Linked DNA regions of Homo sapiens. The protein of the gene in region 1 purifies or fractionates together with the protein of each later gene. This does not show direct contact. Each region holds a gene or a part of one and is shown on either strand. Other genes may lie near its edges.

Region 1 (3,500 bases):
GGTTTGGAGCAGAGCTGAGATCCAGGCTCCAGACTGTTTCTCCTGGGTCCCCCTGCATCTAGCCCCCTCCCCATACTGTTCCCTCCACTCCCTCAGCTGACGATGGCTTCGGCACCACTGACATTGATCTCAAGTGCAAGGAGCGGGTGACCGACAGCGAGAGTGGGGACAGCTCTGGGGAGGACCCAGAGGGCAACAAGGTGAGGGCTTGGGTCACGGTGCTGTCCCATCACACTCCCTCCTAAGCCATGGGAATGTCTGTTTCTCCCGGGCTTGAGAGAGGGGGAGATTAAGGTCCAGAGAGGGCAAGCTGCTTGCCCCGTGGGGAGTTGGGTCATAGTCAGGATGAATTGAGGCCTTCAGCTGGCAGGGGTGCAGCCCTAGGCTGGCCTGGCTGACAGGCTGGATGGGCATGGCTAGGGGGCTGCTATCGAGGTGTCGGAGTGTCCTGACCTGGGGTGTCTCCCTTCCTTTCATGCAGGGCTTTGGTCGGAAGGTGTTTTCACCTGTGATCCGTTCCTCCTTTACCCACTGCCGCCCCCCACTGGACCCTGAGCCCCCAGGGCCCCCGGATCCTCCTGTAGCCTTTGGCAAAGGCTATGGTTCCGCCCCATCCTCCTCTGCGTCCTCGCCTGCTTCCTCCTCAGCCTCGGCAGCCACCTCCTTCTCACTGGGCTCAGGAACCTTCAAGGCCCAGGAGTCTGGTCAGGGCAGCACAGCGGGCCCCCTACGGCCCCCACCCCCTGGGGCTGGGGGTCCAGCGACACCTTCCAAGGCAACCCGGTTCCTCCCAATGGATCCTGCCACCTTCCGGCGCAAGAGACCCGAAAGTGTGGGTGGCCTGGAGCCACCAGGCCCCTCAGTCATCGCGGCCCCTCCCAGCGGAGGAGGAAACATCCTGCAGACACTGGTGCTGCCCCCAAACAAGGAGGAGCAAGAGGGCGGCGGAGCCAGAGTGCCCTCCGCCCCCGCCCCATCACTGGCCTATGGGGCCCCAGCAGCTCCCCTGTCCCGTCCTGCCGCCACCATGGTCACCAATGTGGTGCGGCCTGTCAGCAGCACTCCTGTGCCCATCGCCTCTAAGCCCTTCCCCACCTCTGGCCGGGCTGAGGCGTCTCCAAATGACACAGCAGGTGCCAGGACTGAAATGGGCACTGGGTCTCGGGTGCCTGGGGGCTCCCCGCTGGGTGTCAGCTTAGTGTATTCGGACAAGAAGTCGGCAGCAGCCACCTCACCAGCCCCACACTTGGTGGCTGGACCCCTGCTGGGCACTGTGGGGAAGGCGCCTGCCACTGTCACTAACCTACTGGTGGGCACCCCGGGGTATGGGGCCCCTGCGCCCCCTGCTGTCCAGTTCATTGCCCAGGGGGCCCCTGGTGGTGGGACCACTGCGGGCTCAGGAGCAGGTGCTGGGAGTGGCCCCAATGGGCCAGTACCCCTGGGCATCCTGCAACCAGGTGCCCTGGGCAAGGCTGGGGGAATCACCCAGGTACAGTACATCCTGCCCACGCTGCCCCAGCAGCTTCAGGTGGCACCTGCCCCAGCACCAGCCCCTGGGACCAAGGCAGCGGCTCCCAGCGGCCCTGCACCCACCACCAGCATCCGTTTCACCCTCCCACCGGGCACTTCCACCAACGGCAAAGTCCTGGCTGCCACTGCACCCACTCCTGGCATCCCCATCCTGCAGTCTGTACCCTCCGCCCCACCCCCCAAAGGTGAGACCTGGGCCGGGCAGCACTAGGGGAGGGGCCATAGTCCTGTTTGGCTCCCTTGTAACCTTTTCCTTTCTTGCCTCTTAACTTCCAGCCCAGTCAGTTTCTCCCGTGCAGGCCCCGCCCCCGGGTGGCTCAGCCCAGCTGCTGCCTGGGAAGGTCCTAGTGCCTCTGGCCGCCCCTAGCATGTCAGTGCGGGGTGGAGGGGCCGGCCAGCCACTGCCACTGGTGAGCCCGCCCTTCTCAGTACCTGTGCAGAATGGTGCCCAGCCCCCCAGCAAGGTGAGGGCCTGCCTTTCTCTCTACCTGCTGGATGTTGGCCCCTGTACCCCATCATTTCTTTGTCTTTTTTTTCAGTCTTTTCTCCTTCTCCATGTATCTGGTTCTCTGTCTTGCCATCTTCCGTGATGTCTCTGTGCATCCTGACTCTCTCAAGTCCTCAGTGTCTGTACCCTCCTCCTTCTCTGTGTCCCCACCTCTCACTGTCATCTTGCCCATCCTGTTCTCACCCCAAGTTCTGTGTTCCTTGCTTTTGCTTAGAGTCCCACTTGAGGTCTTGGTCTTCCCCTGCCCCAGTCTGGGGCCACAGCTCACCCTGGCCTATGGGTGCCCTTCTCCACAGATCATCCAGCTGACCCCGGTGCCTGTGAGCACACCCAGCGGCCTGGTGCCGCCCCTGAGCCCAGCCACACTCCCTGGACCCACCTCTCAGCCTCAGAAGGTCCTGTTGCCCTCCTCCACCAGGTAATTGCAGCTGAGCCCATACTCAGAGGCCAGGGAAGGGGTGGGGCGGGGCCGGCTTACCTCACTCCTCCCCATTTCCTCTCCTGCGGCAGAATCACCTATGTGCAGTCAGCGGGCGGGCACGCGCTGCCCCTGGGTACCAGCCCTGCGTCCAGCCAGGCTGGAACAGTCACCTCGTACGGGCCCACGAGCTCTGTAGCTCTAGGCTTCACCTCGCTGGGGCCCAGCGGCCCCGCCTTCGTGCAGCCCCTGCTCTCAGGTGAGGGGCGGCCTGGCAGGCAGTGCTGGGGACCCAGGGTGGGGCTGAGGCAGTCCGGGCCCTAACTTGGTCTCCTGCTTCTTCTTCTCTGTCTTTCAGCAGGCCAAGCCCCACTGCTGGCTCCCGGTCAGGTGGGCGTGTCACCTGTGCCCAGTCCCCAGCTGCCGCCTGCCTGTGCAGCCCCCGGAGGTCCTGTCATAACAGCATTTTACTCTGGCAGCCCTGCACCCACCTCCTCAGCACCCCTGGCCCAGCCATCCCAGGCCCCCCCAAGCCTGGTCTACACTGTGGCCACCAGCACAACCCCACCTGCAGCCACCATTCTGCCCAAGGGCCCGCCAGCCCCTGCCACTGCCACCCCAGCCCCGACTAGCCCTTTCCCCAGCGCCACAGGTAGGTGTCAGATCAACCCAGAGCAGAGTGAGTTGGGGGACCCAGGGGATGGGCTCCAGTCAGGCCTGGCTCAGCAAACAATTTTCTCCCCACTAGCAGGTTCCATGACCTACAGCTTAGTGGCCCCCAAGGCCCAGCGGCCCAGCCCGAAGGCCCCCCAGAAAGTGAAGGCAGCCATCGCCAGCATTCCCGTGGGGTCCTTTGAGGCAGGTGCCTCTGGGCGGCCTGGCCCTGCACCCCGGCAGCCTCTGGAGCCTGGCCCAGTCCGAGAGCCAACTGCCCCAGAGTCTGAGCTTGAGGGGCAGCCCACACCACCAGCCCCTCCACCCCTGCCAGAGACCTGGACTCCCACGGCCCGGAGCAGCCCCCCACTGCCCCCACCTGCTGAGGAG
Region 2 (3,500 bases), on another chromosome or scaffold:
GAGGTTTCATCATGTTGGCCAGACTGGTCTCAAACCCCTGACCTCAAGTGATCCACCCGCCTCAGCCTCCCTAGGTGCAGGGATTACAGGTGTGAGCCACCATGCCCAGCCATCAAGGCTCATCCTCACCAAGTTAGCTTTCAATTGCTACAACATCTTTTTTTTTTTTTTTTTTTTTTGAGATGGAGTCTCACTCTGTCGCCCAGGCTGGAGTGCAATGGTGCGATCTCCACTCACTGCAATTTCTGCTTCCTGGATTTAAGCAATTCTCCTGCCTCAGCCTTCCGAGTAGCTGGGACTACAGGCATGCGTCACCACGCCCGGCTAATTTTTATATTTTTAGTAGAGACGAGGTTTCGTCATGTTAGCCAGGCTGGTCTTGAACTCCTGACCTCAGGTGATCCACCCACCTCGGCCTCCCAAAGTGATGGGATTACAGGCGAGAGCTACGGCGCCCGGCTGCTACAGCATCGTAACAGAGGCAAAGGCGCCCCCTAGAATGCAATGCAACTGCATCTGGAACATGAAAAGGTATACTCCTCACCATAAACTGATACTCTTGGTGTATGCATCTGCTCTTATGGGTTTTGTTGGTATGAATCAGTCTTGCCAAATCTGCTGAGTAACCAGATAGACTGTACCTCTTACTTTCAAAGCTGAAGACCAGATAGAGAATGCCCACACCAAGGCACACCCATCTTGGGAAGTCCTGTTATGGGGCCATTTATTTATTTATTTATTTATTTTGGTGAGGCAGAGTCTTGCTCTGTCACTTAGGTTGGAGTACGGTGGCACAATCTTGGCTTACTGCAACCTCTGTCTCCCGCATTCAAGTGATTCTCCTGCCTCAGCCACCCAAGTAGCTGGGTTTACAGGCGTGTGCCACTACACCCAGCTGATTTTTTGTATTTTCAGTACAGAGGCGGTTTTGCCATGTTGGCCGGGCTGGTCTAGAACTCCTGGCCTCAGGTCATCTACCCCCCATTGGATTTCCAAAGTGCTGGGATTACCCAGTTACTTTTATTTAGTCATATGCCCCATCCTAGTGTCTTCAAAGTATCAAATAAAACATATTATCAAGTGTCTGAGTAGAAATTAGGGAGATGTTTAAAAGTAAGTCACATTAGTGAAGAATGTGCCCATGTGCAGCATACTGTTTATGATTAACACCCACTTGATCATGGTCATCTGACAACCAGCACAACAAATCTAAAACAAGGGTTGTCATTAGAAATTTTTAAAAACCTAAAAATCAAAAACAAGAGTTGTCATATGAAATGAAGTTATTCTGCATGAAAAACCATGTGAGAAGACTTGCAACCAACTTCCTACACTGGGATAACAAATAGCTCAGGAAAGCTTAAAGAGAGGTTTAGTGCACAGAGTCCCTCTACTTTAGAGACCTCAGGGAACCTGGCCACAGCCAACATGAAGCTAATATCAGAATATCTGAACACTAAAGTAAGTAGGATGCTCAAATAAATGTTTGAATTATCAGAATGGTGCCTTAGCTTTTCCATTCTGAAATTATGAATTATCTTCCTTGACGTGAAACAACCAGAAACAAAAAATGTTAAGGTTTGTTTTTGAGATGGAGTCTCACTCTGTCGCCCAGGCTGGAGTGCAGTAGCACTATCTCAGCTCATTGCAGTGTCTGCCTCCCAGGTTTCAAGCGATTCTCCTGCCTGAGCCTCCTGAGTAGCTGGGATTACAGGCACCCGCCACCACACCTGGCTAATTTATGTATTTCTAGTACAGATGGATGTGATTTTGTCACGTTGGCCAGGCTGGTCTCCAACTTCTAATCTCAAGTGATCTGCCCACCTCAGCCTCCCAGAGTGTTAGGATTACAGGCGTGAGCCACTGTACCCGGCCACTTTTTTTTTTTTAAATAAAGGTAGGATTTCACTTCTATTTCTTTTCTTTTCTTTTTTTTTAGACGGAGACTCGCACTGTCGCCCAGGCTGGAGTGCAGTGGTGGGATCTCGGCTAACTGCAAGCTCCACCTCCCGGGTTCACGCCATTCTCCTGCCTCAGCCTCCCGAGTAGCTGGGACTACAGGCGCCCACCACCACACCCAGCTAATTTTTTGTATTTTTAGTAGAGACAGGGTTTCACTGGGATTTCACTTCTATTTCTAACATTCTTCCTCATAGTACCAGGCATCTATTGCCTGAGACTTCTTTTTTTTAAGAGAGAGGGTGTTATTTTTCATTAAATTTTCTTTACATTTGTCTATAATAACTAAGTCCAAGTGCTTACAATAAAATCATGATTACAAAAAGGGCATCATAAGAAATAATAAAAACTTCCTTTAAATTCCCGCTGGAGTCAGCTTGAATGAATACTAAAAAGCGAAGTCTGAGCATTTGCTGTTGTAGCCCCCAACATTCTTATCCAGCACCTGTGTGTGTGTTAAGGTGATTCCTCAGGAGGGTGACTGTTCTGAATGCCCTGCCACAGAGATGGCACTTGTGTGGTCTCTCATCAGTGTGGCTTTTCATGTGACGATCCAAATTTGAACGCCGTGGACACGTGTAACTGCAAAGCTCACACTGGAATGTCTTCTTTACACCTATGTGCAAAATAAAACACTTACTTGCTGCAGAGTTTCAAAGTGTTAAGATTAATCCTAATCTTAAATTTCTACAAATATATTTGATTAGCTTTTAATAACAAAACCCAATATAAGTCATAATTATCTCATGTCACTAATACATTTCCTTCTTCTTTGGGATTAAAAAAAGAGCATTCAATCTGGAAAAAACTTATTTTAGACTGGTTTTAAAGAACGGTACCCACATAACGACCTTTTACAAATACGGTTAATATAAAACAACTTGCATATGCACTGTGTTGTATGCTTATCCCAAAATGGTTTTATGAAACCACTATGGATAAACTCGTTTTACCTTTCTTTTTAATTTTTGTTGGCTTTGGAGGCTTCATATTACCAACCACTTTCTCTGCATTAACCTCTGATAGCAGACCCTCCTGCTGTTCTTCCTCAAAATCGTAGACAGACACATCTACATCTTTGCCCTCCTCTGTATAACGCAGTTTGCTCTTTTTGGTTTTCTTTGTTTTTTTGGCTGGTGGCTGATAGTCTGGGTCTTTTTGCCAACTAGGATCTTCCTGGGGTGGAAGTTCCCCTTGTTCTAGTGTCTCCACCTCTCCATTGGCCCCCACTTTAACCACCTGAAACCCTTCAGGCAAAGGTAGGGTGTGGCATATCATGGGTTCACTTTCCGCAAGGCCCTCTTTAGACACTTCATTTTCATAAGCCCCCTGAAGTTCTTCTACTGAAGTGGTAGCAACAGGTACAGTCACAGGAACAGGTACTTGAACAAGCTGAAGTTCTCCTATGTTTATGGGCTGTTCCTCCATATTTACAACCTGTAAAGTTATAATCTGGGTATCGTCCACAGCAGCCTCTGCTTCTGGAGCCACTGTGCCCTCCATTACTTCAGTCTTCATCTGAAGAAGGGTGGGGTCCAGCT
Region 3 (3,500 bases), on another chromosome or scaffold:
TTGATTAAATATATTCTTTTTCTTTGTACTTTTTAGGTAGACAGAGAATGTAGATCATTGAAAGCATTATTTATTCCTAAGATTGGCAGGCACAGAATCATTTTTAAGAACCAAATACCCAGTCCTGCCTTAAAGGCCACATCTATGATCATCAGCTCTGTTAGAAATAACAGCCTGGCATAATTCCTAAATACAAGTCTGTAGATATATCCAGGAGATAGGGTTACACTGTTTTCTAACCTTTTTTAAATCCCTTAATCTTGAGGTAAACTGCATGCATTTAGTCAAACAAGCATCATAAAATTTGTTTCCTCACTGTTTGGGCTTAACCTCCTGATAGCCTGTTTTACTGAATAACTTGACCCTAACCTGTAGAGAATAAGAGCATTCAAATTAGGAAGGCAGGACTATCCATCTTTAGTGCTTTTCCTGCCGTTAAACAACAATGTGAACTTGGTCAAGTCATTTCTGTTCTTTATCTGTGACATGAGGTAACTGTATTAAATTTTCAGCATCAAATCCAGCTATAAATTTGTATTTTGTAAACAAGAGAAAGTAAAGCAGGAGACAGAATGGAGAAGCTGGATAGTGTTTTTTTTTTTTTTTTTTAAGGTTCTTTTATCATCAGATATGACACAAAGGGAAACATCAAAATGCACCGTAAAGTTAAATCCTAGTTACCTTTTTTTGAAGCTGTTGGCAAGGTTTGACCACTTGGGGCATCTTCTGCTGTGAGATGACACTTGAAAAACACCCATCAAAGTTTTCCTGGTAGGAATCTCTCTTTACTGCGTGTTTTTTTGAAAAGCTGACAGAGAATATGCTTTGGCTTTGACACTAATGAAGTCACCCATCATCAATTACATACAGCTAATTGTTGGGAGCTAGAGCTAGAATCCAAGCTTTCTGATTCTCTGCATGGAAGAGGAAATGCTCTAGGGCCCTTCAGGGCAAATCTTAAAAGGAAGTTCTTGGCCGGGCGCGGTGGCTCATGCCTGTAATCCCAGCACTTTGGGAGGCCGAGGTGGGTGGATCACGAGATCAGGAGATCGAGACCATCTTGGCTAACACGGTGAAACCCCATCTCTACTAAAAATACAACAAATTAGCTGGGCGCGGTGGCGGGTGCCTGTAGTCCCAGCTACTCGGGAGGCTGAGGCAGGAGAATGGCCTGAACCCAGGAGGCGGAGCTTGCAGTGAGCTGAGATAGTGCCACTGCACTCCGGCCTGGTGAAAGAGCGAGACTCAGTCTCAAAAAAAAAAAAAAAAGGAAGTTCTTAGTGTGTAATTGACCATCAGGGATAAATGGGCTTCAAAAGTGTTAATTGTCTCCTTACTTACAGTGAGTTTCTAGAGATAGCCCTGTCTTTCAGAAATTCTCTGACATCTGCTTGCGCAATGTTATAACCACTTTCCCACACTACTCCCCTCCAGAAATCTCATTGATATGTGGCGAGGACACGCCTTAGCTATCACCCCAATGGATGCTTCTTTCATTGACCCAAATCCAGAATGTAATGGGGAACTGAATACAAGTTGGATGTCTCCACCCTTGGAAAGCACATCTTTTGTTCTTACTGAAGTAGTTTAACACCACCAGATGATCAAGGGATCAGGGTATCTTTCTGGTATCTTTTTAATCACTGAAGGACTTTGACAGCAGTAATGGTGGCATTGTTGACTCTTAAATTTCTGAACGTTTCACTTAATGGCAAGTGAAGAGATATAGAATCCCCCAAAGAGTGTCAAGATGCTAACTTCCAACCCTATTTTTATGTACTGAAGAGGCCTCAGTGTCTCACTGAACTCTAACCTTTTTGTCAGTGTTCCTCAACACTGGATGCGTATTATTACATAACCTGAGGAGTTAAAAAATACAATAACCAGATGTCCAATTAAATAAAATTAGAATCTGGAGGAGGTAGAACTCAAGCATTTACAGTTTTGTTTTGTTTTTTTTTTAAGACAGAGTCTCGCTCTGTCCCCAAGTGCAGTGGCACAATCTCGGCTCACTGCAAGCTCCGCTTCGTGGGTTCACGCCATTCTCCTGCCTCAGTCTCCCGAGTAGCTGGGACTACAGGCGCCCGCCACTACGCCCGGCTAATTTTTTTGTACTTTTTAGTAGAGACAGGGTTTCACTGTGTTATACAGGATGGTCTCGATCTCCCGACCTCATGATCCGCCCGCCTCGGCCTCTCAGAGTGCTGGGATTACAGGCGTGAGCCACCACGCCCGGCAAGCATTTACAGTTTTAAATCTCCCAGTCAGAATAAATTCTTATTGAGGGCCATACCTAGCCTGTCTTCATCAAACTCATAGGTGAATCTTTGTCAAACCTATAGGAGAGAGATGCAGGCCATAGAGATGGTCTTGCTGAAGGTCTTATAGCTAAATTAGTTCAGATCCAGGAACCAGATTCTGGAACTGATTGCACCTATATTATGTTGTGTGTCAGACACTCCCAGGACCTGTTTGGTAATAATTAGGACAGCTGACATACTTGTTGCTAATTTTGAGATCTGGGCAACAACTGTGTAGGCTGTTCTTTCAACCTCTTTCTTCTTACTTCTTTACTTTTCCTTCAGAGAGGAGAAAGCCACCCCTGTGCTATAGCCACCGCTCCAATTCTGACTCTAGCTAGGTCATGAAACAGACTGAGCTATTATTGCATCAACACATAAATCCTGTCATTTGGGTATTATTCTTTAGAGAACTAGAGATTACCTAGCTGCAACCTAAGTTTCCTGAATTAGAATCATTTGAGCAGCACCATCTTAATTGGCTCATTAACATATTTGTGACCAGGCACAGTGGCGCATGCCTGTAATCCCAGCACTTTGGGAGGCCGAGGCGGGCGGATCTCTTGAGGTCAGGAGTTTGAGACCAGCGTGGCCAACATGGTGAAACCCCATTTCTACTAAAAATGTAAAAATTAGCTGGGCTTGGTGGCGCGCGCCTGTAATCCCAGCTACTCGGAAGGCTGAGGTGTGAGAATCACTTAAACCCGGGAGATGGAGGTTGCAGTGAGCAGAGATTGCGCCACTGCACTCCAGCCTAGGTGACAAGAATGAGACTCCGTCTTAAAACAAAAACAACATATTTGTTCACTTTTGAACCCTGTGGTGTCTTTTAACTTTGTTAAGGGCCCTTGGTTAGCAAAATTATGAAAGTTTAGGAAATTTGGCTATTGAGTATATTAAGTACAACTACAAAATCCTCTGAGTTCTCCAGGAAGCCTAAACCTTGAGCAGTATCTTATTCAAGTGGAGTATATATCTTCAAGAATACAGATTTTTAAGGTAAGTAGTTTTTCGTCTTTGCATCTCCTAAGACCATTGTTAACAACCTTGATATTAAACGAAGAAGTGAATGTAAACCTCCTTTTGAACATATTTTTTATAAAGAAATATTTTGTTAATTGGAGTAAGTAGTATTGTTATGAAATCACTGTGTAATTGTTAATTGTAAACTGCAATGTCTATTTTGTGTTGTAACAATGT
Region 4 (3,500 bases), about 29 Mb from region 1:
GAGAAGTGGGAGGTTGCTCAGGAGCCAGGTGGGCAGCCCAGGGGCCCGGCCTGGTCCTCGATGAGGTGCTACGTGAAGCAGGGGCCGGCTCCCATGCCCACCCGCTGCTGCACCTTGGCCCACTTGGAGAGCGTGGGGCTGTCACTCGGGGTCAGCTCTGGCCCCTTCACCTGGCCAGCTGCCCCTAGATACTCAGCCACCTCCCCAACTGCCCCCCTCCGGGGCCCCCCATTTCTCACCTGGTCTGACTCCAGCAAGCACAGGCAGCGGGTGGTGGGTGAAAGCCATGCGCGGGGAGCTGCCCTGAGAGGAGAGGGCACTGCAGAAGTCCAGCTTTCCTGACTTCTTTAGAGAAGCCGGGCCTGGGGGGAGGAAGCAGCAACACAGGGCAGGTTTAGCTGGGCTGGGGTGGGTGCGGGGAAGGCGGGAAGCCAGCAGCTCGCTCCTTCTCTCCTCAGCCCCTCCCCACTGCCCCTTCCTCCACTGTGCTCCCTCCTGCTGCTCCTTGCCCAGTCCCAGGCCTTGTTCTAGGCCTGGTTCCGAGGCCCTGTGTGTAGGCCAGCCAAGGGGTGCTTCTAACCAGAGAGGAAAACGAGGCCCCTGGGTAATGTGGGGTGGTGTGTGCCAGGCAGGGGGTGAGCAAGGGCCCCAGCCTATGCCCTGGCAAGCAGGTAATGAAGTGAAAGGGTGGGATGCAGGACCAACATTGGGAAAGGAGTGCAGGAGGAACCCCAGGGCGCCAGCTTGAGAGCCGGGAAGGGGTAAGTTTGGGAGGGACAGGCTGGGGTCTATGCCATGGTGCCCGGGGCCATGGGAGGTTCTGGTGGGAAGAAGCCAGGGCCCCGTTTAGGGAAGGGAGCACACAGCCATGAGCCCTCAGGAGGGACACAATGCCCAGCGAGAGAGCAGGGACAGAGGCCAGAGGACCTGGAGAGTCCTTGGGCTGCTCAGGCCTAGCCGGGCTGTGCAGGCAGAGCCAGAGGGGAGAAGACTCCCCCAGCCAGGGGACCCAGAAGCTCAGCTGCCATAGGATGGATAATTTCAGGGCTCTGCCCTGCTTCTGGTGCCAGAGGTGTGGGTGGCATTCAGCATGAAACAAGGGCACAGAGAACACCTTGTTTGAAGTCTGTCTTTAGAAATTCATCTCTGCCCAGTGGCCATAGCATCCAAATGACAAAGCAGGGCCCCCAGGGGGCCAGGTTCTTCTGGAAAGATCAGCTCCCATCTTGGGCTGAGCTTTAAGGTTGTGCCCAGGCTGGGAAGGATAAGGTAGAGTTGGGGCAGATCTCACAGCTGCCACCCTTGGAGGACAAATCAAGTCAGTTTGGGTGAGGGGTGGAGGGGCTGCAGAACAGAGAAATAAAGAGCCATCTTAACTGCAGAGGGAAGGGGCGGGGGAAGGGCGAACTCCCAGCCGCCAGCGGAGGTGTTATCTGGCAGCAGCTGTGTGCCACCTGATAGCTGGCACAGTGGGGAGGGGGGAGCATCCTACCAGCTGTGCACAGCTGTCCCCATGGCCGCACAGTGCCTCCCCAGCTGTTCCCTGTCCTGCAGCTGGGCTGCTTAATTGGCAATTTGTTGCAGCCCATGAAAACAACACACAGCGGGGTGAGGGGAAAAGGGAGCCGGAGGGTGCTGCAGGAGGATGTTGAGGGGCCGTGCGTGGCAGGACTGCCGGAAGGAGCAGAAATGCAGAAATGGCAGGCGCAAAAGCAGACAGCCAAGAAAGGAGAGAGCAGGAGCCAGGAAGAGGGGGGCTCCTCAGGAATTAGGTCTGGGCACAGGAGCCCAGGAGCCCTTGCCCCAGGAGCCAGCTGCAGACACAGTCCTCTATGCACCCCAGGGGCAGTCCTTGCAGAAGGGGTCACCTACTGAGGCCCCGGCCAGGGACCCAGGATGTAGCCCAAGAGTCTCCCGGGCCTTCTCAACTCCTCTCTCTGCCTCTCAAGGCTCCCCTAGGGAAGCATGTGGCCCATGCTGGCCCAAGTCCCTGCCTGCCACGAGGAGAGCCTGGGAGGGGCCCCAGAGTCACGCAAGGAAGCCTTCTCACAGAGGCCAGCCTCTGCTGGCCATCTAGAGGGTCTCCAGCCCACTCCCTCAGCCTGAGGCCTGGAGGCGAGCCCTCCTTTCCTCCTCCCAGGAGGAGGAGAAGCTGCCAGAACTTGCATTCGTTCTGGGGCAGCAGAAAAGCAGGAGTGCTTCCCAGCCCCACCTCGCTCCACCCCAGACTCTGCCTGCCCACTTGGCCCTTCCCAGTAGGGGCATATCTGGAAAACATCAGACAAAGTACCATTAGGTCAGACCCTCACCTTTTGGAGGAGGAGAATGATGCCCAGGGCCCAGGCCTGTCCAGAGCAGCCATGCCCTGTGCACAACCCACACGCGTGAGTCTGCACTCCCAGGCCCTGTCACACCCACAGTGAGGATAAACACGGGCTGTACCACTGGCACGTCAGCGGGGGACTCTTGCGGCCAGCCTCCTCACACACATGTGCTCATGCACATGCACACACACACACGCACGTGTTACATGCTGTCTTCCAGAGTCCTCTCTAGGTCTGTCTGCACCCTCAGTCAAGAATGGAGGTGAAGGGGGGTGGGTTCAACAAGAAGAAGATCCCTAGAGGAGACTGGGAAGGTCTGAGCTGGCTTCCTCTGTACTCTCTCCCCTTCGCTAGCTTCCCTACCTGGTCTCAAAAGGACTCTGCTCATTCTTCACTAGACTCTGAGCCTCTCTCTGTGAAGCTGGGCCCTTGAGACCAGTGGTTCTCATCCTGGGAGGATTCCATCCCACTAGGGAACGTCTGACAATGTCTGGAGGCGTTTTTGGTCATCAAAACTGGGGGTGGGGGTTTTGCTGCTGGCATCTTGTAGGTGGAGGCCAGGGATGCTGCTAAACATCCTGCCATGCACAGAACAATCCCCTACACAGAATGATGAGCCCCCAGGGTGAGAAACTGCTTTCAACCATGAGGCCACGGGGTGGGGCAACCTCTAGAGAAATACCAGGAGGGGCTGCGGCCATCCCACTGTGGGGCACCAGAGGCTTGGCACCCCCTCTGCTTCCCACCGCCATACCACGGGCTCTGCTGCTGACTCTCACAGCACCCCTCCTCACCCTCACCTCCACTCCCTTCCTTCAGCCTGCTCTGCCCTCCCTGGAAGATCAGGAGGCAAGAAAACAGATGGGTAATGCCCCCCGACAGGGGGACAACTGGTGGGAGGCTCACCAGGTGAACTGAGAAGGGGACAAAAAGACTCTGGGCTGCCCTTGCTCTGGGTCAGGATCCCCCGCACCCATACCTGCATCCACATCGTTGGGCCACCCGCTGGACTGGCTGCTGCCAGCTGCTGGGGAACGGCCTGTCCCGGGATAGAACACGTCATCAACAGGGCTCTCCATCTCACTGTCATCGATGGACTTGGGGCGCTTGGTGGTGCTGGGGAAGAAAGAAAGGGTCACATGGGCCAAGGATGGGCTGAGGCTCCAGGGAGTGACC

The links. Proteins that work in one complex are often made in the same cells at the same time.
Region 2: the proteins of CIC (region 1) and CTCF purify together in Homo sapiens (affinity purification with mass spectrometry, with the first as the bait; one large-scale study listed by BioGRID). This does not show direct contact.
Region 3: the proteins of CIC (region 1) and GMPS purify together in Homo sapiens (affinity purification with mass spectrometry, with the first as the bait; one large-scale study listed by BioGRID). This does not show direct contact.
Region 4: the proteins of CIC (region 1) and NFIX purify together in Homo sapiens (affinity purification with mass spectrometry; 2 studies listed by BioGRID). This does not show direct contact.

Annotation. Positions count from the first base shown.
Region 1 is NC_000019.10:42,289,752-42,293,251, forward strand, and holds part of CIC (protein capicua homolog), read left to right. Parts: intron 1-96; coding exon 97-200; intron 201-481; coding exon 482-1,715; intron 1,716-1,806; coding exon 1,807-1,994; intron 1,995-2,334; coding exon 2,335-2,456; intron 2,457-2,548; coding exon 2,549-2,715; intron 2,716-2,814; coding exon 2,815-3,108; intron 3,109-3,204; coding exon 3,205-3,500. UniProt on the Homo sapiens protein: Transcriptional repressor which plays a role in development of the central nervous system (CNS). In concert with ATXN1 and ATXN1L, involved in brain development.
Region 2 is NC_000016.10:67,611,026-67,614,525, reverse strand, and holds part of CTCF (transcriptional repressor CTCF), read right to left. Parts: coding exon 2,913-3,500; intron 2,576-2,912; coding exon 2,405-2,575; intron 1-2,404.
Region 3 is NC_000003.12:155,940,150-155,943,649, forward strand, and holds part of GMPS (GMP synthase [glutamine-hydrolyzing]), read left to right. Parts: 3' UTR 1-3,500. UniProt on the Homo sapiens protein: Catalyzes the conversion of xanthine monophosphate (XMP) to GMP in the presence of glutamine and ATP through an adenyl-XMP intermediate.
Region 4 is NC_000019.10:13,075,475-13,078,974, reverse strand, and holds part of NFIX (nuclear factor 1 X-type), read right to left. Parts: intron 3,441-3,500; coding exon 3,304-3,440; intron 363-3,303; coding exon 240-362; intron 1-239.